4 linked regions of the Homo sapiens genome follow. The protein of the gene in region 2 interacts with the protein of the main gene of each other region in a pairwise test. Each region holds a gene or a part of one and is shown on either strand. Other genes may lie near its edges. The genes, in order: TFAP4, VMAC, ZNF326 and ZNF80.

Evidence for each region.
Region 1: the proteins of VMAC (region 2) and TFAP4 interact in binary tests that used the Homo sapiens proteins (3 or more experiments, as listed by UniProt).
Region 3: the proteins of VMAC (region 2) and ZNF326 interact in binary tests that used the Homo sapiens proteins (3 or more experiments, as listed by UniProt).
Region 4: the proteins of VMAC (region 2) and ZNF80 interact in binary tests that used the Homo sapiens proteins (3 or more experiments, as listed by UniProt).

Annotation. Positions count from the first base shown.
Region 1 is NC_000016.10:4,256,686-4,263,050, forward strand, and holds the end of TFAP4 (transcription factor AP-4), read right to left. Parts: intron 6,017-6,365; coding exon 5,851-6,016; intron 5,738-5,850; coding exon 5,639-5,737; intron 5,265-5,638; coding exon 5,094-5,264; intron 3,911-5,093; coding exon 3,770-3,910; intron 3,561-3,769; coding exon 3,405-3,560; intron 1,565-3,404; coding exon 1,370-1,564; 3' UTR 501-1,369; downstream 1-500.
Region 2 is NC_000019.10:5,901,042-5,907,875, forward strand, and holds the start of VMAC (vimentin-type intermediate filament-associated coiled-coil protein), read left to right. Parts: upstream 1-3,830; 5' UTR 3,831-3,849; coding exon 3,850-4,040; intron 4,041-6,834. Other genes in the region: NDUFA11 (NADH dehydrogenase [ubiquinone] 1 alpha subcomplex subunit 11), read right to left, coding at 2,571-2,667.
Region 3 is NC_000001.11:90,012,106-90,019,132, forward strand, and holds part of ZNF326 (DBIRD complex subunit ZNF326), read left to right. Parts: intron 1-1,020; coding exon 1,021-1,132; intron 1,133-5,211; coding exon 5,212-5,359; intron 5,360-6,579; coding exon 6,580-6,679; intron 6,680-7,027. UniProt on the Homo sapiens protein: Core component of the DBIRD complex, a multiprotein complex that acts at the interface between core mRNP particles and RNA polymerase II (RNAPII) and integrates transcript elongation with the regulation of alternative splicing: the DBIRD complex affects local transcript elongation rates and alternative splicing of a large set of exons embedded in (A + T)-rich DNA regions.
Region 4 is NC_000003.12:114,234,574-114,242,006, reverse strand, and holds ZNF80 (zinc finger protein 80), read left to right. Parts: upstream 1-4,428; 5' UTR 4,429-4,932; coding exon 4,933-5,754; 3' UTR 5,755-7,376; downstream 7,377-7,433. UniProt on the Homo sapiens protein: May be involved in transcriptional regulation.

The sequences.
Region 1 (6,365 bases), on a different chromosome or scaffold from region 2:
CTGGCAGACCAATTCCAGGATCTTAGCACTTAAACACCACACCACGGGGGGGCAGGGGGGTGCTGGGGGGGTGCGGTTGGAGGGGGTGGGGTTCCCCTCCTAGGGGAGGAGAGGATGAGGCTCAGAGAAGTTACAGAAGCCCAGGAAGTGGCAAAACCTAGGGATTAACCAAAGCGTAGGGACCAAGCAGGGCCCCTGAACACCTGTGTCCTTTCCCAGGTTTTCGGAATCGGTGGCTTGGTTGTCCTTCTCTCCTTGCCGCCCACCAAAGAGCCACTCCCCAGCCTCAACACCATCTTCCATCTTTACAGAATACCCAGGGTCATCCCAGGGAAACTGAGGACCCCAATTTTTCATCGCAACACCACACACAAGCTGAGGGAGTAACTGTGCTCACACACACCCAGTCCGCTTTGGGGGGCCCAAGGAGCCCCCCTACTCTAGATGGGGTAGCCCTGCCCTGGTCTTCAGGCCAGCCCACACCCAGGAGACTCAGAATCTAAAAAACAAAGTACAAACTTTATTTTGTTTCTTTACAAAGGCACGGTGGCCTCTTGGTTTTTTTCTCCCCACTTTCTTAACAAAATATAATAGCTTCTCCTTGAACACGAAGACCTCAAAATTGTAAAAAAAAAAAAAAAAGAAAGAAAAAAAAGAAAAACAAAACAAAAACAGAAAGCAAACCAAAAAGAAATAAAAAACCAACAACAAACAAAACAAAAAGAGAGAGACAGACATTTTTGGGGTGGAAGATGAGACCTGGAGGCAGAGGTGGGGGCTGGGGGGTGGGAGAGTGGCGAATTCTAGTGCCGAGATGGGGAAGGGGGAGGGGGGCACAGCAGCAGCAAACCCCAACCAAGAAGCAACGGAGACCTCCGGGCCCCCAGAATGCCCCAGCCTAGTCTTACCCCCAACCATGTAAGTGCTTAAAGGAGAAAGAAGAAAACCCAAAAAGAGGAAGGAAAGGGGATTGAAGGCTGACAATCCCAGGCTGGCTCTGGGCAGGGAAGAAATAACCTGGGGTTTTGTTTAATTTTCCCTGTTCTTAAAAAACATATTTAAAGGAAAAAATGCTTTTTGGCAGAGAGAGGCCAGGCATCTCCGTGTCAGCTTCCTCCAGCCCCCGGGGCCGAGGCCCCGCCCTGGGGTGCCGATGCTCCCACACGCTCTGCGACACCCCAGCCCCGGGACCTCGGGTTGAGTGGCTTCGTTCAAAGGTCGATTTACAGTATTGAAAAAGAGGTCATAAAAGAGACCCAAATGACATCGTAATTTTGTAAAAATTTCTCACTCATTCGCCCATGTCTCTCCCTGTGGCTGCCCCGGCTCCCTCCAGCCCCCAGAAGGGAGAGGAGGGCTGGGGGGGTAGTCAGGGAAGCTCCCCGTCCCCCGACGGCTCCTCCCGGCTCTGGTCCATGGCGTCACTGTCTGAGGCCTCGGAGTCGGAGGCGGTGTCAGAGGTGGGGGCCTCCGGGCAGCTGCGGACAGGCTTCACGATGACAGCTCGCCGCTGCTCCTCCTCCAGCTCCTGCTTTTCCTGGGTGCCCTCGATGTGCTGGATTGCCTGGACAGGGACGAACCACTGAGAAGGCTCGGCCGGGGATACATGGCCAGCCAGGAGACAGTGGGGGCTCTCAGCCAGCCACTGTCACCCCCAAAACACATAGCCCAGAAAAAAGCCTGGCAAAGCAGCAGGGGAGGCCCGCTAGAGTACAGGAAAAACAAACTCCTTTTACTTTTTTTTTGGAGACAAGCTCTCGCTATATCACCCAGGCTAGAGTGCAGTGGCATGATCATAGCTTACTGCAGTCAGACTCCTGGGCTCCAGCGATCCTCCTACTGCTCCCTCCCTAGTAGCTGGAACCACAGGGGTGCGCCACCATCCCCAGCTAACTTCTGTATTTTTGGTAGAGACGAGGGGGTTCTTGCTATGTTGCCCAAGCTGATCTCGAACTCCTGACCTCAGGCAATCTTCCTGCCTCAACCTCCAAAAGTCCCGGGATTACAGGCATAAGCCACCACGCCTGACCCAGGAACAAACTTTCAAAACCCCTCTGTTAAGTTGAAAAATCCATTCTGGGAAGATGACAGTCCCAGTGCTGCTTAGAAATTATATTATATGTATCAGCCAGGCGCAGTGGCTCACGCCTGTAATCCCAACACTTTGGGAGGCCAAGACGGGAGGATCACCTGACGTCAGGAGTTCGAGACCAGCCCCTCAACAGAGGCCAGAAGCCTACTAAAAATACAAAATTTGCCAGGCGTGGTGGCACATGCCTATAATCCCAGCTACTTGGGAGGCTGAGGCAGGAGAATCACTTGAACCTGGGAGGAGGAGGTTGCGATGAGCTGAGATAGCACCATTGCACTCCAGCCTGGGCAATAAGAGCGAAACTCTATCTCAAAAAAAAAGAAAAAAAAAGAAATAATATGGACCTTTCATATGTTTTTGTTTGTTTGTTTTTTGAGAAAGAGTCTCACCGTGTCACCCAGGCTGGAGTTCAGTGGTGCAATCTCAGCTCACTGCAACTTCCACCTCCCATGTTCAAGCGATTCTCCTGCCTCAGCCTCCCGAATAGCTGGGATTACAGGCGTGCACCACCACGTCAGGCTAATTTTTGTATTTTTAATAGAGATGGGGTTTTCACCATGTTGGCCAGGCTGGTCTCGAACTCCTGACCTCAAGTGATCCACCCACTTTGGCCTCCCAAAGTGCTGGGATTGCAGGTGTGAGCCACCACACCCGGCCATATGTTTATGTATTTTAAAGCTTGCCTATTAACTTATTAAAGGCGTTTGTTATTAATTGTATTACACAATTTGCAAAGTTTATGAGCAATTAAAATTCGAGGAGATTGATGGATTTTTTTTCCTGTTTTGGCTTTTTTGGTTATTTATTTATTATTTACTGATTTCTGATCTTGGGCTCCTCAAGGGGCCCTGTTCAAGGGTGAATGCAACTGTAACTTCAGGCTTGACCCACAAAGCTTCCTCCTCTGTAGGAGGCCCAACTATCACCAGCCCTGCCACCTGTATCTCCATCCAGGTCCTAGGAGATGGAGCTGAGACAATGTTCCGGACCAACCCAAGAGCTGGATGCAGGAACTCTGTAACCAGGGGGCTCTGGGAGCAAAGGACCCTCTCCGGAAACCCCATATTGAGGGAAGGGACAGTCTTCCTGGCCAACTCCTCCTACTGGCGTGGTAGGCCCTGCCCCGATCTCTGGCCCTCACATTCTCCACTTGCAGATCCAGGGACGGGGCCCCCCAAGGCTTCCAGCCCTCCACCCCTTCCCACACAAGCACCATCTTCCTCCGCTTCTGCCCCTCTTTTCCAGTCTCCCCTAAAGAGCCTGTTCCCGGAGTATGACCCCCACAAGCTGCCCCTTTCTCAAGCTCAGGTACCTGCACGATGGTGTCCAGATTTTGCCGGGATGTGGAAACAGAGTTGATGACCGAGGAGGGGCCCATGGTGACGACATTGATGTGGTGGGAGGGAGGAGGAGGCGGTGCTGGCACGATCACCGTGGGGTGGTGGGTGGGGGCCGGAGGGGGCAGAAGCTGCAAGACAGAGGCCCTCAGCCTTTCTCTCAAGGCTTCTCTTGGCCCATCCACCTCCCTTTCATGCAGAGCTGGCCAATGTATAACTGCCTCTGCCCCTTTATATTAAGAAGCAGAGAGGACGTGGCCTAGGGAGAGGCTTCCGCCATTCAAGATCACCTGTCCCCTTCCCGGTCCCCAGAGCCCACTCCCGGGCGCCTCCTGCTCACCTGGGTCCGCAGCTGCTGCTGTTCCCGCTCCAGCTTCTCCTGGTGCAGCAGCCTCACCTGTTCCTGCTGCTGCTGCAGCTGCACCTGCTGCGCAATCACCTTGAGCTTTTCCGGGTACATGTGGGCCTCCAGCGAGCGCACCTGGAGGCAGGACAACCTGGGCTCAGGGCCAAGGCCGGGAGCACACCCTGCCCTGTCAGTCTCACAGCAGCTCATTCACTCCTGCTGAAAACCCTAGCACAGGGCGGGCCCCTCTCAACAGAGGCCAGAAGCCTTTCCAGAGCCCTTCAGCCCCCGGCTCCTCTCGCCTCCCACCTCGGCCTCCACTGGACCATGCTCCCTCCTGCCCGAGTCTTTGCCTATGCTATTCCCTCTGCCGGGAACACCTTTCTCTGTCCTTTGGTTAACTATGAGACTCAACTTCCCACTTCCATGGAGATGCCGTGGGGCGTCCCTTGAAAAACCCCTCCTGATGCCACAGCTCCAGCCTGGCCTTCAATATGGTTTTTTGTTTTTGTTTTTTGGTTTTTTTGAGCCATGGTCTCCTTCTGTCACTCAGGCTGCAGTGTAGTGGCACAATCATGGCTCACTGCAGCCTCCACCTCCTGGGCTCAAGCAATCCTCCCAGCTCAGCCTCCTGAGTAACCGGGACTACAGGCACACCCCACCACACCTGGCTAATTTTTGTATCTTTTTTGGTAGAGACAGAGTCTCACTATGCTTCCCAGGCTGATCTCAAACTCCTGGGCTCAAGCGATCCTCCCACCTCAGCCCCGCAAAGTGCTGGGATTATAGGTGTGAGCCACCATACCCAGCCCATCACGGTTACATTTTTTTTTTTTTGAGATGGAGTCTCGCTCTGTCTCCCAGACTGGAGTGCAGTGGCACGATCTCGGCTCACTGCAAGCTCTGCCTCCCAGGTTCACGCCATTCTCCTGCCTCAGCCTCCCAAACAGCGGGGACTACAGGCACCCACCACCACGCCCGGCTAATTTTTTTTTTTTTTGTATTTTTAGTAGAGACGGGGTTTCACCGTGTTAGCCAGGATGGTATCGATCTGCTGACCTCAGGTGATCCACCCGCCTCGGCCTCCCACAGCATGGTTACATTTTTGAGATCCTTTGGCTAATCTCCCCCACCCCAACGCAGACGGTGGCCCCCAAGGGCAGAGACGTGTCTGGCTTGCTCCCCACTCCTAGGCCTGGCACCGCAGTAGGTGCTCCTGTAAATAGGGCTCCACCGAGGGCCGCAGAGCAAGAGGCGCGACCCCAGGCTCCACGCCCTCTGCACCGCGCGCCGTGCCCAGCAGAGGGCGCTGCCTCACCTGCTCCTCCAGCATCATGCGCACCGAGCGCTCCTTGTCCAGCTGCTGCCGCAGCTCAATCATCTCCCGCCGCAGGTCCTCCGCCTTCTCGTCCTCCCAGATGTCCGGGGAGCCTATGCCTTCGTCCTTGTCCTCTGCCCGCCGTCGCTTGGGGGACGAGCCGCTCAGCTCCTGGGGACCCCAAGGAGTCGGTCAGTGTGCCTGACACCTCGGTACCACCACGGAGATTGGGGTTCCATCGCAGCCCCCCAAAGCTGCCCAACACAGGTGAATCTTCATTAGGGAGCCCCTTCTGCAAGTCCAACAAACCAGCCAAATGCCAGGAGAATGGGCTGCTTTACATAACAGTCACCTGGCTCCTTCCAGAGCCCACTCCACCGCACTTGACCGATGGGGAAACTGAGGCCGGGGCAGGAAAAAAAGTGCCTGGAAGTACTTGTCAGTGGGCAAGAAGGGGCCTGCAGCCACACCTGAGTCCCAGGCCCATGGCTGGGTCCAAGGCATGCCCATGCCAGGGAGAGGGAGCCATGAAGGACAGGGCGCACCTGGATGAAGCGCTTGAGCTGTGTGTTCTGCTGCAAGAGCCTGGTCTTCTCCTGCTCCAGGGAGAAGATGTACTCGGCTGTCTGCTGGAGAATGGCTGCCTGAGGGCGTGGAAAAGCCGAGAGTCAGGCTGGCAGTGTTTACCAGAGCTCACTTTCCTCTCCCAGCGGGAACCTGCCGGCTCCTCCAGGAAGCCCTCCCTGCTCTCACCCACCTTGCTGAGCTTCTCTCCGTCTGTGTGGGGGATGAGGGTCTTGAGGGACTGGAATCCCGCGTTGATGCTCTGCATGCGTCTCCGCTCGTTGCTGTTGGCGATCTCCCGCCGAATCCGCCGCTCCTGGTCCCGCTGAGTCTCGGGGGTTAGTGGAATGTTGGCAAGGCTGCCAGAGAGGACAGGGACAGGCTCGGCCAAGGCGCCCTCTTCATCATTCATCTCCAGAGGGCCCCAGTGGAAACTGCATCCCTCCCCTGCTGCAAAAGATGCCAGGCCACCCCCAGAGAGTGATGGAGGGGTGCTCTCTGGGACACCGGGGCGGACTGAATCAGCTGGCTGCGGGTAAGATAGTCCGCTCAGAACCCACCCCGGGCCAGGCACAGTAATCCCAGTTCTTTGGGAGGTCAAGGCCAAGGATCATTGAGCCTAAGAGTTTGAGATCAGCCTAGGCAACGTAGTGAGACCCTGTCTCTACAAAAAAATAAAATTAGCCAGGTGTGGTGGTGCATGCCTGT
Region 2 (6,834 bases):
ATCAGCGATCTCCTGACATGGCAACTCTGTCAAAAGTTCTGACCTCCCCTTCTAAGACCCTCTGGGGAGCACCCCCGGTCTCAGAGGCCCTTCACTCAGCAGCACCACACCCCGAGACAAGCTGTCTCCTCCAAAGGCCTCCTGAGACCGCAGCCCACTCATTTTGTATTCACACATGAGGAATGCACACACTCTCTCACATGAACACCAACATACGCGTCTTTCTCAGTTTCAGATCCTATCCCCTGGGTGGCCCCCTTCAGCCCTTTCTCTTGAAGACCCTCGATAAGGACCTGATGGGAACATTCCTTGCTTCAGAGACCCCTAGGAGCAGGTCAGCCGACCTGGACTTGCAGCCCAGCTTCAAATGACCCTGGAGCAGTTAATATGCTTCTCCAACCTTCAGTCCCTACCTGTAAGAAATGGAGACACAATAACGTCTGTCTTACTATTAATAAATATGCAAAATATGGGAGTGATGATTAGGTCTGCCCTAATTCAAATGCCTCCCAATGGAGCCGCAACTTTGGCCGGGCCCTGTTTCACATATGCTGGAAATACAGAGTTGACCAAATTGATTCCTCAGCTTATAGACACACCAGGTTGTAAAGACTGTTTCTTTGGGTTTTTTTTTTTTTTTCTTTTTGAGACGGAGTCTTGCTCTGTCGCCCAGGCTGGAGTGCAGAGGCGCAATCTCGGCTCACTGCAAGCTCCGCCTCCCAGGTTCACGCCATTCTCCTTCCTCAGCCTCCTGAGTATCTGGGACTACAGGTGTCCACCACCACGCCCGGCTAATTTTTTTTGTATTTTTAGTAGAGACGGGTTTTCACCGTGTTAGCCAGGATGGTCTCGATCTCCTGACCTCGTGATCCACCTGCCTCGGCCTCCCAAAGTGCTGGGACTACAGGCGTGAGCCACCGCGCCCGGCTGGTTTTGTTTTGTTTTGTTTTTTGAGACAGCGTCTCACTCTGTCGCCCAGGCTGGAGTGCAGTGGCACAATCTCGGCTCACTGCAACCTCTGCCTCCTGGATTCACGCCATTCTCCTGCCTCAGCCTCCCAAGTAGCTGGGACTACAGGCACCCGCCATCATGCCTGGCTGATTTTTTGTATTTTTAGTAGAGACGGGGTTTCACCGTGTTAGCCAGGATGGTCTCAATCTCCTGACCTCATGATCCGCCTCCCAAAGTGCTGGGATTACAGGTGTGAGCCACCATGCCCGGCCTATTATTTTTATTTTTTGAGACAAGGTCTCGCTCTGTCGCCCAGGCTGGGGTGCAGTGGTGCAAACATAGCTCACTAGAGCCTTGAACTCCTGGTTTCAAGTGATCCTCTTGTCTCAGCCTCCTGAGTAGCTGGGACTACAGGTACGCACCATCATGCCCAGCTAATTGTTTTACTTTTTTGCAGAGATGGGGATCTTGCTATTTTGCCCAGGCTGGTCTGGAACTCCTGGCCTCAAGCGATCCTCCCACTTTGGCCTCCTGAGCGCCGGATTACAGGTGTGAGCCACCGCGCCTGGCCCAGTTTGTAAAGATTCTTCATCAGAGGGAAGAGGACTTCCAGCTCCATCTGGGACCTGATGAGTCCCAACCTGTGGCTGAGAATTAAAGGGCATGATGCCCATGAAACGCTCAGGCTGGAAGGGGCAAGACTCAGATTTACTCTATAAGAGAATGCCAGGGCCGGCCGGGCATGGTGGCTCACGCCTGTAATCCCAGCACTTTGGGAGCCCGAGATGGGCGGATGGCCTGAGACCAGGAGTTCCAGATCAGTCTGGCCAACACGGTGAAACCCCGTCTCTACTAAAAATACAAAATAATTAGCCAGGCGCGGTGGCGTGAGCCCGTAATCCCAGCTACTTGGGAGGCTGAGGCAAGGGAATTGCTCGAACCAGGGACGTGAAGGTTGCAGTGAGCCGAGATCTCGCCACTGCAGTCCAGCCCGGGCGACAGAGCAAGGCTCTGTCTCAAAAAAAAAAAAAAAAAAGGAGAATGCCAGGGCTTGCGGGTCCCCTTCATTCCCCTGCAAGGCTACCCTCATAGTAGCTCCTGATCCACCTCACCTAGGACCTCTCTGGCGGTCCCAGTAAAAGCTTCAGGTGTCCCTAACCACCCAGCACCCCCTGACCACAGAAAGACCTCATCCCACCCCAAAACTTTCTCAAACATCTGTACCGCCCTCAGATGCCCCAATCATGACTCATGATCCCCTCTAACAATCTCTACCCCGTTGGAAAGTCTCGTGGTCCCTTAGCTCCTTGGACCTGATAATAGCCCTGTCTCACTCCACAATTTCCCCGAGCCTGGCGATAGCTTGGGACCGCCTCAGATGACCCCAGGGACTAGCTTGTCGCATGTCACGACCTCCCAGTGCTCCCCAACCCTGCTGGACCCCCTACCAACATCCATTTCACACAAGATCCCCCCCTACGACCGCCCAAGACACCCCGATGACAACCACGTGCGTACCCGCGAGACTCCCAGACCCGTTCGATCCAAACAGCCCCCAGTAACCCCACGACCTCCCTGCGGCCTCGGCCCTCCACCCTCGGGGCCCGGCCGGCGCTCACCAGCGACGCTGGCAATACTGGTGGTGCTGTAGGCTTTGCGGTGGCAATCGGTGCCATCGGGGATATCCCAGTACTGACGAAAAACCTTCGGCGCCATAGCCCGCAATCTCGATCCCGCACCACGGACCCCGCCAGCTCGGGAAGCGCAAGGGCAGCCGCGGCTGGCTATCGCGAGACTTCTCGGGCTGCGCGCGCAACCTTTCGGGCTAGCGGGCCGGCAACAAGTGAGCAACTTTATTGATAGGCGCGGACATGGACATGGATCGCGCGCACGCGCCGGGGACCGGCCTGGAGGAAGAGAGTAGCACGTGCATCCCCAGGCCGATTCCTAGAGGGTGAAACTGAGGACGACTGCGATCAGTGCAGACAGATTTCGCTAGTCCCAGCTCAGGGAGTCCTAGGTTAGGGACTACTAGAGGCGGGGACTATCTACTAGGGGAGGGGCCGGGCTCAGACTGGGACGGGCGGGACTCCAGTTGATAGGAGCAAGACATGACGAAACAATGACTGGGGGGCGGGGCATGGCGGGGATGTGGCCACACCCAGTGTCAGAATCTGCATAGCGAGTGGTCATGCCCTGTGGTCAGTCACCAAGCTGGAGTCTGAGCAGCGTGCTACTGTTTTGGGCCGTGGACAGGATCAGGGGCGGGGATTATCGGGAAAGTGACCAATGACAATACGAGAAGCTCAGCGGGACGTGGCCTCTGTTCACCCCGCGGCTGTCCCACGCCCTAGGCCGGATGAAGTACACAGGCGCTTGACTTGGGGGCGTGGCTAGAATTGGAGGCATAACCTAAAAGGGACTTGACCAATCTGAGACTGTATAAGGGATGAAGGGGCGAGGCCGTGCCTGGATCTACCCCTGACAGGCCACAGGTTCGGGGGGCGTGGTCAGGCTTGCTGTTTCGCGGAGTCCGGGCCAATCCTGGTGTTAGCTTCCAAGTAGGGAGGGGACAGTATCGAAGGTGTGACCAATCTTGTTTCCAGAGCCTGAGTTGCGCGAGCCGCCAAAGGATGTGGCCAGCCTGGGGGCGTGGCTGTCAAGATCTTGTCCAATCCTAGAGTGAGCCCAAACTCAGGGGCGGAGTTTCATGATCCCGGAACCGGTGGTAGTGTTTGGGTTTGAGGAGAGCACGACCCAGCCCTCTGGGGTGGGGTCTAGCGGGGTCAGCGACCAATCGCGCCGAGGTCTAGTGGGGCGGGGCCCTCCCGGGGGCGGGGCCTGTGCCAGTTCCGGGCCGCCTGGGGGCGTGGCCGGGCCTGTACAGCAGCCTGGGCCATGTCGGCGCCGCCGGCCCTGCAGATCCGGGAGGCAAACGCACACCTGGCAGCCGTGCACCGGCGCGCAGCGGAGCTGGAGGCGCGGCTGGACGCGGCGGAGCGCACGGTGCACGCCCAAGCCGAGCGCCTGGCCCTCCACGACCAGCAGCTGCGCGCCGCCCTAGACGAACTGGGTCGCGCCAAGGACCGGTGAGGCCCGGGGCCGGCCAGGTGGACTTCACCGAGGCGGTAGGCGGAGGCAGAGCCGAGGCTGGAAAGCGAGGAAGGGCAGGGGGAACCGTGTGCACTTGTATAGACGCTAGACTGAGTATCGGATTGATAAAAACACCAAAAAACTCGAATTAGTAATCAGTATGTAAAGTTGCGAGAAGTGACACAGGTGTGGACCTCTAACTTCAAACAGGCCCACTTTCCCACAGGTGCTGAGCGACGCAGGGACCACAGACCGCCCAGCGTAGGCATTGGGAGCCATAGCAGGCTCTTCAGCAGGGGAGGAGGGGATCATATCAGCATTTTAACTTTTAAAATTTATTATTATTTTTTTGAGACGGAGTTTCGCTCTTGTCGCCTAGGCTGGAGTGCAGTGGCGTGATCTCAGCTCACTGCAACCTCCACCTCCCAGATTCAAGCGATTCTCCTGCCTCAGCCTCCCGTGTAGCTGGGATTACAGGCGCCCGCCACCACGCCCGGTCGATTTTTTGTATTTCTAGTAGAGACTGGTTTTCGTCACGTTGTGCAGGCTGGTCTCTAACTCCTGACCTCAGGTGATCCGCCCGCCTCAGCCTCCTAAAAGTGCTGGGATTACAGGGGTGAGCCACCGCACCCGGCCTAAATTTATTATTTTTGAGGCAGGGCCTCACTCCTATGCCCAGGCTGGAGTGCACCTCGACCTCCGGAGCTCAGGTGATTCTCCCACCTCAGTCTCCCAAGCAGCTGGGACTACAGGCGTCCACCACCACGCATGGCTTATTTTTTGTATTTTTTTGTAGAGACAGTTTTGCCCTGTTGCCCAGTTTGGTCTTGAACTCCTGGGCTCAAGCAGTCCTCCCACCTCACCCTTCCAAAGTGCTGGGATTACAGGCTAAGCCACCATGCCTATCTATTATTTTTGAGAGAGGGTCTTGCTCTGTTGCCCAGGCTGGAATGCAGTGGTGCGATCTCGACTCACTGCAGTCTCACCCTCCCTCCTCAGCCTCTCAAGTAGCTGGGATTACAGGCGTGCGACAGCACACCTGGCTGATTTAAAAAAAAAAATCCTTTAGAAATGGGGTCAGACTATGTTGCCTAGGCTGGCCTTGAACTCCTGGGCTCAAGTGATCCTCCTGCCTCAGCCTCCCGAAGTGCTGGGATTATAGGCACGAGCCACCATGCTGGCCCATATCAGCATTGTTGAAGAGTCCCTCTGACAGCTGAGGATGAAAGAGATGAGACAGGCACCCAGGGAGGTGGGAGGAGCTGGGTCCCAGGTGGGAACTATTACTTCAGAGCTAATTGGACATATTCATTTTTACCGAGCACCTGCTCTGTGCCAGGCACTCATTCATTCGTCTTCATTGAGCACCTACTGTGTGTCAGGCATTCTGCTGAGTACTGGAGCACATCAGTAAGACTTAGCCTTGCCCATTGGGTATCCACAGTCCAGTGGAGAGACAGACATGTCACTGGGCAGTTACATCATTGGTGGCCAGCGGCCATGATGGAGGGGCATATGGGGCTCTGAGGGATCTCAGAGTGAAGGCTTCCCAGAGGAAGAGCCTACTAAGAATAGGTGGGAAAAGATAATGGAAAGGAACGAACTGCAGGAAGAGTGAGGGGACGAAATGAGGGTTCTCATAAGAAAATGCCATAAACTGGCTGGGTGGTGGCTCACGCCTGTAATCCCAGCACTTTGGAAGGCTGAGGCAGGCAGATCACCTGAGGTCAGGAGTTCGAGACCAGCCTGGCCAACATGGCGAAACCCTGTCTCTACTAAAAATACAAAAAAATTAGCTGGGTGTGGTGGCACACGCCTGTAGTCCCAGCTACTCGGGAGGTTGAGGCACGAGAATCGCTTGAACCCAGGAGGCGGAAGTTGCAGTGAGCCGAAATTGTGCCACTGCACTCCAGCCTGGGCAACAGAGAGAGACTCTGTCTCAAACAAACAAAAAAACAAAATGCCATAAATTAAGTGGCTTAAACAAGAGGTTTGTTTCTCAGCGTTCTGGAGGCTGGACGTCCGAGAGCAGGGTGCCAGCATGGTCAGGTTATGGGAGGGCCCTCTTCCGGGCTTGCAGATTTCTGGCTTCTCTCTGTGTCCTCACAGGGCAGAGAGAGCCAGGGAGTTCTTTTGTATCTCTTCATATAAGCACACTAATCCCATCATAGAGACCCCCACCCTGACAACCTCATCTAACCCTAATCACCTCCAAAAAGCTCCATCTCTAAATACCCTTCTGCTATGGTTAGACTTTGTGTTTCCACCCAAATGTCAGCTTGAATTGTAATCCCATAATGCCCACGTGGTGTGGAAGGAACTGGTGGGAGGTAAATGAATCATGGGGGATGGTTTCCCCTTCATGCTATTCTCATGATAGTGAGTGAGTTCTCATGAGATCTGATGGCTGGGCGCAATGGCTCACGCCTATACTCTCAGCACTTTGGGAGGCCGAAGCGGTCAGATCACCTGAGGTCAAGAATTTGAGACCAGCCTGGCCAACATGGTGAAACCCTGTCTCTACTAAAAAAAAAAAAAAAAAAAAAAAAAATTAGCTGGGCATGGTGGCACACGCCTGCAGTCCCAGCTACTGGGGAGGCTGAGGAGGCAGAATTGCTTGAACTCGGGAGGCGGAGGTTGCAGTGAGCCGAGATCACACCACTGCACTCCAGCCTGGATGACAGAGCTAGATTCCGTCTCAATCAATAAGGGAGATCTGATGGTTTTATAAGGGATTCCCCCTTTGCTGGTCTCTCACTGTCTCTCCTGCTGCCCTATAAAGAGGTTCCT
Region 3 (7,027 bases), on a different chromosome or scaffold from region 2:
TTACAGGCATGAGCCACTGTGCCTGGTCCAAACAAAAATTTATATATGAATGTTTATAGTAGCATTATTCATAATTGCCAAAAGGTAGAAACAATTGAAATATACATCAACAGAAGAATGGTTTAAAAAATGTGGGTTATTCATACAATGGAATATTATTAAACCATAAAAAAGGAAGTACTTACTAATACATGGTACAACATGGGTGAACTGTGAAAACATGCTAAATAAAAGTCAGACCAAAAAGGCAACAGACAGGATGATTCTAGGTATATGAAATACTTAGAATAGGCAAATCCGTAGATCAGAAAGCAGATTAGTGGTTACCAGGGCCTTAGGGTAGGGTTGAAATGGGGAGTGACTGCTTTATGGGATGATGAACAGTTCTGTAACTAGATAGTGGAGATGGTTGCGTAACTTTGTGAATGTACTTAATGCCATTGAATTGCACATTTTAAAATGGTTAAACTAGTAAATCTTATGTTTTGTGTATTTTATCACAATAGAGAATATTTTTTAAAAAAGAGAACAAATTTGCTTTTATTTTGGAGGTTACAAATTTTAAGAAACTTTCTGAGAGCTCCTACAATATGAACATGAGTTCTTGCATCCAGGGCTCTGCAGTGTTTACTGGACTTCCATTTTCATGCTCGGTCAGGTTACTTTAGTGTTTTTCCCAAAGTATGTGATGCCCAAGATGATTTTAGGTGATAAGGATATTATTGCTTAGAATAAGGATAGGACAAATGAGCACATTTAAAGAAAAATATGTAGCAAATAATCACATAGATGACAAGCAGATATGACAGAATTCATGATGATGGTATTCAAATGAATGAAGTTCATTTAGTGAAGTTTCAGAAATACTGGATAGTCTCAAACTCCGATTTTTTTGGTGAGTTCAATTTTAGATTACAATCACTAAGTATACCTCATAAGTATGTACTTTACGAACTGATGATTGGAAAGAGAGAATGGAAAAATGAATTTTAGCTTTTACTTTTTTGTGTAATATCCTAGCAAAAACTGATCCTAAAAATGAAGAGGAAGAAAAGCGGCGAATTGAGGCTCGGCGAGAGAAACAAAGGCGCAGAAGAGAAAAAAACAGTGAGAAATACGGAGATGGATACAGGTTTGTACTTAGAGTCAGAAAATTAGGTTCATTAAAAAATGATTTCCTAGAAAAAGCCAACACATCAATTGTAATATTAAAAAGTTCTTAAGATTCAAATGAAAAGACTTGTTCAAAGATACAGAGGAATGCTTTTGGTTTTTGATATTTATATGTAATCACTACTTAGAAAACATAAGAAAAAAGGCATTCTATTCATATTGGCAATCCAAAAGATATCAAATATTCAGAAATAACAGTATTCTTAAAAAGAAACACTTGTCATTGAGATTTGACTGTATGGAGTCATAGTGATTTTCATGGGCAGGAATTAAATATTACAAATATGTAAGTTCTTTCCAATCCAGATCCCAAAGGAAATTCTGAAGAAGAGTAAATGAGTAGGTACTGGCTTTTATAGATAATCAATCATTAAAAAGCTATAATAGTTAAAAATATGTGGTAATACACAAAGCTAATTATTATACCAGATTAGCCTGTGAACAGACTGTAAGGAAGAATGTAATATTTAATAAAGAGGATATTAGAAATAAGAGGGGAATTGGGCTAGGCACAGTGGCTCATGCCTGTAATCCCAGCACTTTGGGAGGCCGAGGCGGGCAGATCACGAGGTCAGGAGATCAAGACCATCCTGGCTAACACGGTGAAACCCCGTCTCTACTAAAAAAATACAAAAAAAAATTAGCCAGGTGTGGTGGGTGCCTGTAGTCCCAGCTACTCGGGAGGCTGAGGCGGGACGATGGCGTGAACCCGGGAGTCGGAGCTTGCAGTGAGATGAGATTGAGCCACTGCACTCCAGCCTGGGCAACAGAGCGAGACTCTGTCTCAAAAAAAAAAAGAGGGGAATTGGTTGAACAATGAAATAACAACAAAAATCAGTTTAGAGCCTCCTCATATGACACCTGGAATGAATGTAGTAAAAAAAAAATGAAATTACAGAAAAACAAAATGTTCTGCAAGGAGATTTTTTTCCCAGGCTTAAAAGTTATAGAATAAATTACAAAGGAAATTATGAGCAGATTTGGCTAAATAAAAACTTAAAATTTGAAAGGAGTGCAAACAGACTTGGAAAATATAAACATGAGAAATGATTAATGTCCAAGTTAGATTAAAACATCACCCAAATTATTTTAAAAAGTAAGAAAACTAAGCTGTTTAATATGATGAGGAAACAAAAAACAGCTAGTAATAATTTTAAGGAAATTGTTTAAACTTAACAGTAATTTCATTAAACTAAAAATTTAAATAATAGTATGCCATTTTATTACTAAGGAGAAATTTGATTTGCTAATTAAGGAATGGTCAAAGGACGCTTAAAATTTGTTGGTGACAGTATATTATAACTATTAGCAATTTAGCAGTTTTTTAAAAATGTCTAAATTTTTCTTAAAGCCTTGAGCCCAGAATTTTGAGGCCAGCCTGGGCAACGTGGCAAGACCTCATCTCTAAACAAAACAAAACAATCCATAAAAAGAAGAGTAGTTCTAGTTTCAAGAACTACTGCTATTTTTAGTCCTTGTGAGTTCTCTGTCCCATTCATTATCTCTTGTGATTCCTTCTTTTGGTAGAAGTAACAGGCATAGTTAATATTTTGGTGTAGAAATGACTTTAAATTATCAGCGTCTTGGAGTGTAAAAATCATTTTACATTATAAGATGCAATTTTTTAAATTTAATTGCCCTATGAGTACTTTTCTCATGAAAAATTTTAGATATGGATTATGTTCATGTTAATATAATATATAAAATTGTGATATAGAGAAAATGAAAGAATTGAACTTTCATTTAGCTATTTTCTCTGTAACTCTAAATATAAATCTGATGATATAACCAAAAGAATGTTAACTCATAAATTATCATTTTAGGATATAATTTATTTAAAGTAGTCTAAGTTATTTTCATTTATCAGAGCAGTTTTACTTTGAGTTATGAGGATTCGAGATTGAGTAAATCACTATTCTTGTGATAGGTTCCTTCCCTTGGATATTTGAATGCTTCCCACATAATAAAGCACATGGAAAGGTTTATATCTACCCTTAAGGGAACCTAGGGAGAAAGAGATGGATGTGTGAGAGATGTACATAAATAATAGTGTATGGTGAAGGATACCAGGAGTACAATGTAGTCTCATGAGATATAACTTCTAAATAAGGGTATAGGAGACCAAGCATGGTAGCTCATGCCTGTAATTCCAGTACCTTGGGAGGCCAAGGCAGGCGGATTGCTTGAGCCTAGGAGTTCAAAACCAGCTTGGGCAACATGGTGAAACCTCATTTCTACAAAAAATACAAAAATTAGCCAGGTGTGGTGGCACGTGCCTGTGGTCCCAGCCACTTGGGAGGCTGAGGTAGGAGGATAGCTTGAGCTTGGGAGGTGGAGGTTGCAGTGAGTTGAGATCGCGCCACTGCACTCCATAGCCTGGGCAACAGAGCAAGACTCTGTCTCAAAAAATAAATAAATAAGGGTGCATGGAAATCAGGGGAGGCTGCAATGATGGAAGTAGTATTTGAATTGATCTGGGAATGGTAGGGTTACAGGAGGAGTTGTGAGAGGCAGCCCAGGTAGAGGCCATGGCTTGCCATCAAAGCAAACAGGAATGTGTTATTGTTATTTAGAAAATTGAAAGCAGTGTAGATTGAAGTGACTCTAATGGGTGAAAGGTATAATCTAATTTAAACATTTAATGAAGAAATGCTGTGCCAGATAATGTTAAAGGTATTGGTGAGTAAAGCCAAAAAGAAGAGATTAGGAAATTTCCTGGATGGCAGCTGAAAACATTTTTGTCTTTGTTTTTGGAGCTTATGGAGCTAATGAAGCCCTTTGAGCAGTAATGTGCTCTTACCTCCTATAGGAAGTAGCAATAATTAATTGAATAATTATTGTGTTTTAGGAAATGTTCTAAGGGCTTTGTCTGCATTAATTTTTAAAAATCCTCAGACACCTCTGTGAGCGTTCTCATCTCAATGTAAGAAAACCAAGGCCCAGAAAACCAAGTCAAGTAACTTGCCCAAGATCACAAAATGGAATTAGGATATGAACTCAGCAGTTGGCTCCAGAGCTCATACTCTCAACCAGGAAAATAAATCTAATAGCATTGCAAAGAATTAATTGGAAAATGGAGACTGGAGACAGAAACCAGTTATGTGACTGCTGGCATAATTCAAGGAAAAGAAAATAATGTAAAATAGAAACAGTTATTCTGGTCACGGTGGCTCACACTTGTAATCCCAGCACTTTGGGAGGCCGAGGCAGGCAGATCACCTGAGGTCAGGAGTTCAAGACCAGCCTGGCCAAGGTGGCAAAAACCCTGTCTCTACTAAAAATATAAAAATTAGCCAGGTGTGGTGGCGCATGCCTGTAGTCCCAGGTACTTGGGAGGCTGATGTGGGAGAATTGCTTGAACTGGGGAGGTGGAGGTTGCAGTGAGCTGAGATCGCACCACTGCACTCCAGCCTGGGCAGCAGAGCGAGGCTCCATCTCAAAAAAAAAAAAGAAAAAGAAAAAGAAAAAAAGAAGCAATTAGGTGGGACTGTTCATTATGGAGTGGCTCTTGAGCTTACAGATGTATGCATTTGTCCAGTCCAGGCCTATTAGTTATCCCTAAGTGAAGTAGTCTTTAGAAGGCAAGACTTTTATCACCCAAGAATTCCACAGGAGTGAATTATGATTGTCTGGTGGTGTGCCACCTTGCTTTATTGATACTACCATTGGTTTAGAAGCTTGAGGATGGAACAACATGTAAAATAAGTTGCAGAACTTTGGAACTTGATACTTCTTGAGGTTTGTTTTGCCTTTTTAATTGGTCCAGGCTTGAAGTGGATAACTTATAGATCCCCTGATTCAATTTTTCCTACCCGGAAGCTCCAAGGTGGGCTAGAAATGCAAAGTGGTATATGGGTACTGTCCAAATATGTACTTAAATACTGTTTTTTTTGGATTTAAGCTAAGTTTAATTCAGTCATAAAGAGGAAGAAAGGAAATCATTTATGTTGGTAAAATTAGTTTCAATGTTATATTCTTATGAACTCTTTATAGTTGAATAAAGTAATATTTAAAGGAAAACTTTTTTTTCTCTTACAGAATGGCATTTACATGTTCATTTTGTAAATTTCGAACATTTGAAGAAAAAGATATTGAACTGCATCTGGAAAGTTCTTCACATCAGGAAACATTAGATCATATACAGAAACAAACTAAATTTGATAAAGTAGTTATGGAGTTTTTGCATGTGAGTAGCTGTTTTTGAAGTGAGAAGCATTTTATTGATATGAATTTCTTATGATTTCATTTTTCACTCTCCCCATCTCTCACATTTATGTTTCTAAAATTTTAATTTACTATTTAAAGAAAGAGTTGTTTTAAAATTAACTCAGAATTACTTGTGAATTCCTCTATAATAGAATTTGTATTTGTTATTTCAGAAATTATTACATTTTTCACAGTTTCTGCGGGAGGTGTCCTTTAACAACTGTATTGATGTGGAGTCAGCTATCATCCATTAACTGGAGTTGTGCTGGTTACATTCATTCGTTATTTCAGTTGAGCCCTGTAACAATTCATTTTTATCATGAAAGATTATGCTCAGAGCAGTTAAATGACTGTTAAGTGACAATGCCAGGAATTCAGAAATAATGTAGGAGTTTAGCAAAGGGAAAGACAGTTGGGAATGTTAAGGAATGCTTAAAGAAGGGGCTTGAGCTGGACTGTTGATTGTACGTACAATTAATTTGGACAGAAGAGGTGGAATTATTAGAAAGTTAAAAATACAATGATCAGGCCGGGCGCAGTGGCTCACGCCTGTAATCACAGCACTTTGGGAGGCTGAAGCGGGTGGATCACGAGGTCAGGGGTTCAAGACCAGCCTGAGCAACATGGTGAAACCCCGTCTTTACTAAAAATATAAAAATTAGCCAGGCGTGGTGGCGCGTGCCTGTAATCCCAGCTACTTGGGAGGCTGAGGCAGGAGAATTGCTTAAACCCGGGAGGCAGAGGTTGCAGTGAGCAGAGATCGCACCACTGGACTCCAGCCTGGGTGACAGAGCGAGACTCCATCTCAAAAAAAAAAAAAAAAAGTGACCTTTCAGACCACTGTAATTCTCATAGAACTGTGACCCTTAATTAACAATCTTCTGTAATTTATTTCCTTAATGGGTTTCTGTGTGTCCTTTATAACTTAAATACCCACCTACTCTGGAAGACCTCTTAAATATTCTAGCTCCCTTTGATCCCTTTCTCTATATGCTTAAAATATACTTTGAAAAATGAATAATTTTTGTAGGTTCCTAATATTTTATGATTATCTTTTCAATTAAATTATAAACTCCTTGAGAAAAGATGTTAATTCTTATGTAGCAGATACTGTATCTTCCATAGAATGAACATAGTGCTAAGCATTATACTTGAGTGCTCATTGAAAGCTATTTAGATTCTTTCTATTTTGTTTTCTAGGAGTGTATGGTGAATAAATTCAAGAAAACATCTATTCGTAAGCAACAGACAAATAATCAAACAGAAGTAGTTAAAATAATTGAAAAAGATGTTATGGAAGGTAAGTATTTAAAACAAATTATTTTAAAATTCTACATGTATTTTTATATATCATAACCTGTTTAAATGTAAATGATAGCCACTAGAGTGATATAGTACAGTCATATATACAGTAGCTCTGAGTGAGTTACCAGAAATGAACTTCTTTGTCTTCCTGTTCTAATGCTTACAAATTTATCATTACCTGCCATTACTTTCTTCACTTCAGTTTGAGAGGAAAAGTTACCTTTTCCTCTAGATGAAAGATACTTCTCTCTGTTCTCTGTTTCTGTTATTCCTTCTCCCAAAATTCAAGTTATGAAATCTTCTGTTTTTTAGTCTTTCCTTCTCTTTTGATTCCATCTCTGGA
Region 4 (7,433 bases), on a different chromosome or scaffold from region 2:
AATTCAACCCAAAGTGGTAAGTATGTATATCTTCTGGAAATGTGACACTATGTTCTAAGGGGCTATACTATTGGAGTCATAGGGTAAGGCCACAATTGTGTGAATGAAGGTGGATTCTCTACTGAAGGAAGAAGATAATATACTGATTAGGCATCTTTGTAAAATATGGAAACAGAAAATGGGGAATACAGGCCTGGATTGGGGTTAGTTCCTCTGTCTGGACTTTGACTTCGGCCTAGACACTGTGGAATTGAGGCATGTGTGAGATGTTTCTGGGTGGTAGAGAAAAACTGGCCTCTTCCTAAAATGGTGGTGAAGAGAATGGGCTCTGAGCAGAAGGGAGCTGTATGGAGGCCAGCTGAATGGACTGGGAACTGAGGACTCCAAGAACAGCCCTATCTAGTAGCCAGTTGTTATTCTTTATATGAACGTCCCTCTGTGATCCCCAGCCCTAAGAAAAGTCTTGTTAAAGCCACAGTTTGGTCTAACACTAGAGAGTTTATGTTCATGCCTGGATTACAGTGATAAGGGGAAGTCCATGGGTGTGTCCAAGGACCAAAAATTGCAGGTGAGAGTCTATAGTCACATTGGTTAAGTCATCCACAGGATTCCTTGTGAGAAACCCCCTGAGAATTTCCAGAGAGCAGACTCTGGGCATTGTTACTGATATGATCTAATTCGTACCAACTTTTTGCTGAGATAGTCACATTACTTACAAGCTTTGCTACTGACAGCTCAAATGAGAGAAATTTTTTTTATCATTTTTAGGAGCTGTTTTATATCATTAAAACCATATGCTGAAAGACAAATTCATTAAAGAAAAAAATAGACATTTCCAAGAAATAAAACTAATGCATTTTGTAACCGCCCACATGATCATGGTTAGATTGCATGTATTTAGTGATCAGCTTTCTTTAACTCTTTTTTTTTTCTCAAGACAGAGTCTTGCTCTGTTGCCCAGGCTGGAGTGCAGTGGCACCATCTTAGCTCACTGCAACCTCCGACTCCCAGATTCAAGTAATTCTCCTGCCTCACCCTCTTGAATAGCTGGGATTACAGGCACGTACCACCACGCCCAGCTAATTTTTGTATTTTTAGGAGAGATTGGGTTTCGCCATGTTGGCCAGGCTGGTCTCAAACTCCTGACCTTGTGAACCGCCTGCCTTGGCCTCCCAAAGTGCTAGAATTACAGGCCTGAGCCACCGCGCCCAGCTCTTTAACTCTTAAAAATAAGCACAACAGAGACCAGGAATGACACTTTGAGAACCACTGCTGGAGAGAACTTCACCATCAAATGTGCAGCGTCCTAAGAATGATGAAGGCACTGTCCCTGGCAAGACAGTTCAGAACCGATTCAGAAGAGCTCATGCATAGCAGCCTAAGTCATTGCCATCCACTATTGCCTCCCATCTTGGGGAGACTCTTGCTGTCTGGATAACACAGCTGAGCCTTCTGCCTTGTATTGTGACTGTACTGATTTGTTCCAAATACTTTGGGTGAGAAAACTCTGTTGGATTTTTCAGTTAGCATGTCTGCCTGCTCTTTTATTTCTCTGACCCCAATATTTATATCTTATAAAACTAATCAAGCTGGTGATACCAGTAAAATTTCACACTACACACATTCTTAATTATGAAACATTAGAAGAATTTTTTTTAATCAGCAAAATGAAAATGGCATTTGATAGCACCTCTTCTTTTCAATATAGTAGATAGAGGTTCTGGCCAGCACAGAAGAAAGAAAAATAAAACAAAGTATAAGTATTTGCTAAAAGTCAACGTGCCAGGCCACCTCACTGGGAGAACTGCAATATCAGCGTCTTTGGGTCTCTCCTCTTGAGCTGATTAGATTCTGAGAGAGGAACATTCCAAACAGCTGCTATGACGAGCAAAGAGGGGTGGAGTGAGGGGTCCATATGTCAGTGACCATCAGTTCTCTTCTTCAGTATTCGCCAGAACTGTCCAATTTGCTTCTCATTCCCTGGTTCCAAGATCCTCTCTTCACTTTAAAAACCAGCTGCATTTTGGGAAGGGGAGGGCAGTGGATCAGGGTCTTGCTCAAAGCTCAAGCCACTGCCACCAATCTCCATATGATGGCTTCCACTCCTCACCAGCTCCAGAGCGATTTGGTGCTGTTACACCCTTCATTTTTGAGGATTCTGCAACATAAACTGTGATGCTTCCCTGGCTCCCCTGGGAGAAGTACTGGACGGCAGCAGTCCCAGGCGGCTGAACAATGTTGTATTCTGTGTAGCGGCCATCCTCTTTCCTGAACTCTCTCCAGGTGTTTGCTAATGTGAGCATTCTGGAACACATTTCCTGGTACATGTGGGAAAGCTTTGTTTTGGAAAGACCTTTAGGACATAGGACCAAACTTTTCCAAAGTGATTTTACTAATTACAGAACCATCCACAACATAAAAGAGATCCTGAATTTCCATGTCTTCTCCACACTGAGTATTTTGACTGGATTGACTTTAATGGCCAGCCCCTTGGTACAGTTTATCGTGGGGTCAGCGGGTAAAATTAAGTGATAAGTGGGACACACTCTCTCCACGCCCTGCATGAACAGGTTCCTTACATGTATGTTCTTATGTGCACGTTTGTGCGCAAGCTTGCAGGTCGCCCCGACCCAACCGGCATCAACTTCCATTTAGAATAATTGAGGGTTAAATTCCCAGGAATTAAAAAATGAAACTGAGGCCTCTGAGACTTGTAGTTCGGCTGGCGGAGGCTGCACGCGGCTCTCTGGTATCTGTAGTCGGAAGTACTCTCTGCATATGCGGATGCAGGTGCCGCGTGGCTTTTGTCTTGCTCCATTGCAGCGACATCCGAGGCAGTGGTGCAGGACATGTCCATGATCTTAACCTGGAAGAAGTGGGAGCAGCTGGACCAGCCCCAGAGGACCCCGTACTGGGAGGTGACACCAGAGACCTGCAGACCACTCGTCACGGGGGCATGCAAACCACAGTTGACCTACTAGCTGAAGCAGTGATAAAAGAGCAGAAAATACCTTTGCTAAAGCTGCTGTCCAGGTGACAAAGTAAAAGCCAAAGCCAGCCAGCCTTGTCCTAGGGAGCCTTGCTCCTGGAAAGACTAACTCAGGGAGCCAGAAGTTCCTCCAGGTTGAGGTGAGTGAGGGAAAGAGTGGTTGTGAGAGGTGACAGCGTGCTGGCAGTCCTCACAGCCCTCGCTCGCTCTCGGCGCCTCCTCTGCCTGGGCTCCCACTTTGGCGGCACTTGAGGAGCCCTTCAGCCCACTGCTGCACTGTGGGAGCCCCTTTCTGGGCTGGCCAAGGCCGGAGCCGGCTCCCTCAGCTTGCAGGGAGGTGTGGAGGGAGAGGAAAGAGCGGGAACCCGGGCTGCACGCGGCACTTGCGGGCCAGTTGGAGTTCAGAGTGGGCATGGGCTTGGCGGGCCCCACACTCGGAGCAGCCGGCCGGCCCTGCCGGCCCCAGGCAATGAGGGGCTTAGCACCCGGGCCAGCGGCTGCGGAGGGTGTACTGGGTCCCCCAGCAGTGCCAGCCCACCGGCGCTGCACTCGATTTCTTGCTGGGCCTTAGCTGCCTTCCCGTGGGGCAGGGCTCGGGACCTGCAGCCCGCCATGCCTGAGCCTCCCACCCCCTCCGTGGGCTCCTGTACGGCCCGATCCTCCCCGATGAGCGCCGCCCCCTGCTCCACGGCACCCAGTCCCATCGACCACCCAAGGGCTGAGGAGTGCGGGTGCATGGCGCAGGACTGGCAGGCAGCTCCACCTGCAGCCCCGGTGCGGGATCCACTGGGTGAAGCCAGCTGGGCTTCTGAGTCTGGTGGGGACATGGAGAACCTTTATGTGTAGCTCAGGGATTGTAAATACACCAATCAGCACCCTGTGTCTAGCTCAGGGTTTGTGAATGCACCAATGGACACTCTGTACCTAGCTACTCTGGTGGGGCCTTGGAGAACCTTTATGTCTAGCTCAGGGATTGTAAATACACTGATCAGCACTCTGTATCTAGCTCAAGGTTTGTAAACACACCAATCAGCACCCTGTGTCTAGCTCAGGGTTTGTGAATGCACCAATCTACACTCTGTATCTAGCTACTCTGGTGGGGCCTTGGAGAACCTTTATGTCTAGCTCAGGGATTGTAAATACACCAATCGGCACTCTGTATCTAGCTCAAGGTTTGTAAACACACCAATCAGCACCCTGTGTCTAGCTCAGGGTTTGTGAATGCACCAATGGACACTCTGTATCTAGCTACTCTGGTGGGGACTTAGAGAACCTTTATGTCCACACTCTGTGTCTAGCTAATCTAGTGGGGACGTGGAGAACCTTTGTGTCTAGCTCAGGAATTGTAAACACACCAATCAGCGCCCTGTCAAAACAGACCAGGCCTCTACCAATCAGCAGGATGTGGGTGGGGCCAGATAAGAGAATGAAAGCAGGCTGCCGGAGCCAGCAGTGGCAACCCGCTGGGGTCCCTTTCCACACTGTGGAAGCTTTGTTCTTTCGCTCTTTGCAATAAATCTTGCTACTTCTCACTCTTTGGGTCCACACTGCTTTTACCAGCTGTAACACTCACCGCAAACGTCTGCAGCTTCACTCCTGAAGCCAGCGAGACCACGAGCCCACCGGGAGGAACGAACAACTCCAGACGCGCCGCCTTAAGCCTTAAGAGCTGTAACACTCACCACGAAGGTCTGCAGCTTCACTCCTGAGCCAGCGAGACCACGAACCCGCCAGAAGGAAGAAACTCCGAACACATCCGAACATCAGAAGGAACAAACTCTAGACGCGCCACCTTAAGAGCTGTAACACTCACCACAAGGGTCCGCGGCTTCATTCTTGAAGTCAGTGAGACCAAGAACCCACCAATTCCGGACACAGTTGGAAATGCAGAAGGGCACTTGAGTTTGGCTGCAGTCTCCCACACGGAGACCTTCTGGAGGAAGATGAGCCCTAAACGCGATGGGTTGGGGACAGGTGATGGTCTGCACTCACAGGTTTTACAGGAGCAGGTCTCCACAGGAGACAATCTCCATGAATGTGACTCCCAGGGACCAAGTAAAGACACTTTGGTTCGTGAGGGGAAGACCTACAAATGCAAGGAATGTGGGAGCGTGTTTAACAAAAACAGCCTCCTTGTTCGACATCAGCAGATTCACACTGGGGTGAAGCCTTATGAATGCCAGGAGTGTGGAAAAGCCTTTCCTGAAAAGGTCGACTTCGTTCGACCCATGAGGATTCACACAGGGGAGAAGCCCTGTAAGTGCGTGGAGTGCGGGAAGGTCTTCAACCGCAGGTCGCACCTCCTGTGCTACCGCCAGATTCACACTGGAGAGAAGCCCTATGAGTGCAGCGAGTGTGGAAAGACCTTCAGCTATCACTCTGTCTTCATCCAGCATCGTGTGACCCACACTGGAGAAAAACTCTTTGGGTGCAAAGAATGTGGAAAAACCTTTTACTACAACTCTTCCTTAACCCGGCACATGAAGATTCACACTGGAGAGAAGCCCTGCAAGTGCAGTGAGTGCGGGAAGACCTTCACCTACCGCTCTGTTTTCTTCCGACATAGTATGACCCACACTGCAGGAAAGCCCTACGAGTGCAAAGAATGTGGGAAAGGTTTTTACTACAGCTATTCCCTCACTCGACATACAAGGAGTCACACTGGAGAGAAACCTTATGAGTGCCTTGAACATAGAAAGGACTTTGGCTACCACTCTGCTTTTGCCCAACAGAGTAAGATCCACTCTGGAGGAAAAAACCTTTGAGTGCAAATGATGTGGGAATTTGTGGGTTTTCTTTTTTTTTTTTTCTTTGATACATAGAGAGCCACACTGAGGAGAAGCACTCTGAATTCAGTGGCAGTAGGAAAGCTGTGACCTGCAGCTCATCCTCACTTGGCATTGAAGAATTCCTTCCAGAGATAAACTCTATGAGATATGTGGGAAGGCCTTTTGCAAGTGGGCCCACATCAGTCAACGTCAGAGAACTTAAACTGCGAAAAGACATTTTGACAAAAACTAGTGAAGAAAATCTTTTGGCCACAGGAAATATCTTCCTCAGCATCTGAGAATTTTTCCAGGAGGGAGACCTGTTGGTTATTGTGCACTTAAAAGAACCACCCACACCTCTCTCCATAGTTTATATCACTAAGCCACTTCAGGATTTTTTTTTTTTAAGTAAGAAGGGAACTGTAAAAGAGAAAAAAAGAAATTCATGCATAGCTTCTGTCAGACTTCTCTGAAAGCCATGCCTATCAAAATTTGAATTCAGTTCTTCATTTTGCAGATGGCTGAAAGGTACAAAGGCCTTGCCTCGTTATTTGTCCTTTATATGTATTCACTCCTGTCTACAGGAGAATTGTCCTCTGTAAAGATTAACTCTGTAAAGATTTATTGAATGCATTCTTTGTTCTAAAACATTGTACTCCTGAGGAATGTAAGTCTTTGTGAGAAATATGAACGCTTAAGTAATGGAATATGTGAAACTTGTAAGAACGTAGAATATAAAAATACTGCCATATAAAATCCTTTCATATCTGAGGAGGTAAGTAACCACATTGAATGGGCATATTTTGCTACATCATTTAAGACTACTTAAGGCTTTAATTTAACAAAAAACAATTCTTCATGTGGTTTTGAACACCCAGTGCTCAATATACTTGTTTGTTTTGATTTATTTTCTCAGGGACGAGAGAATGATGGTGAAGCTGTGTTGCTTTCCCAGGTGAGCCTTGATTATTTCCTCTGTGCTTTCTCAGCTTCTTTGGCCTTCTGTAAGAGGGGCTTCTCCAAGAGCATGTCACTAGTTTTCTAGAAGTTAAACAAGAGCTAAGACAAACAAAACAAAACACAGCTTATCTAATCTAATGAGAAACTCAGAAAAAAATGTTTTGATGAATACAATGTATTAAAATATAAAACATGTAGATCCTTTGACATGTTAATTCAATTCTAGAAATCCTCAGAAATGTTTTTATATTATGCAGAGATGTGCGTGCAAAGAATAATCGCTGCAGTTTTGTTTTTATGTGTGAAACGTTGAGAACAATCTAAATGTTTATCAGTTGGAAGTAAGTTATGGTACATCTGTTCTATGAAATACTGTGAAACAATAAGGTATCTCTGTATGTACTGATATCAAAACATCTCTAAGATACAGTATTTAGTAAAAGAGAAAGTTTCAGGAAATAAAACTACATCTAGAAGTATAAGCATAAAACTGTTAATAGTGGTTTTCTGCAGGAAATGGGATGGACCAGGGTTATATGCAATGTTCAGTTTTTACTTTTATACTTAAGTATTGTTTATGTTTGAAAAATAAAAAGCATTTATTGTTTTTGCAATAAATGTTTAAAATATTTCAATAAAGATAGCATGTTAGAATAAAAGTGACTTCTATTATTTCTTAAAAAGCGTACATTTTACAGGGTGTTTTTTTTTAAGTC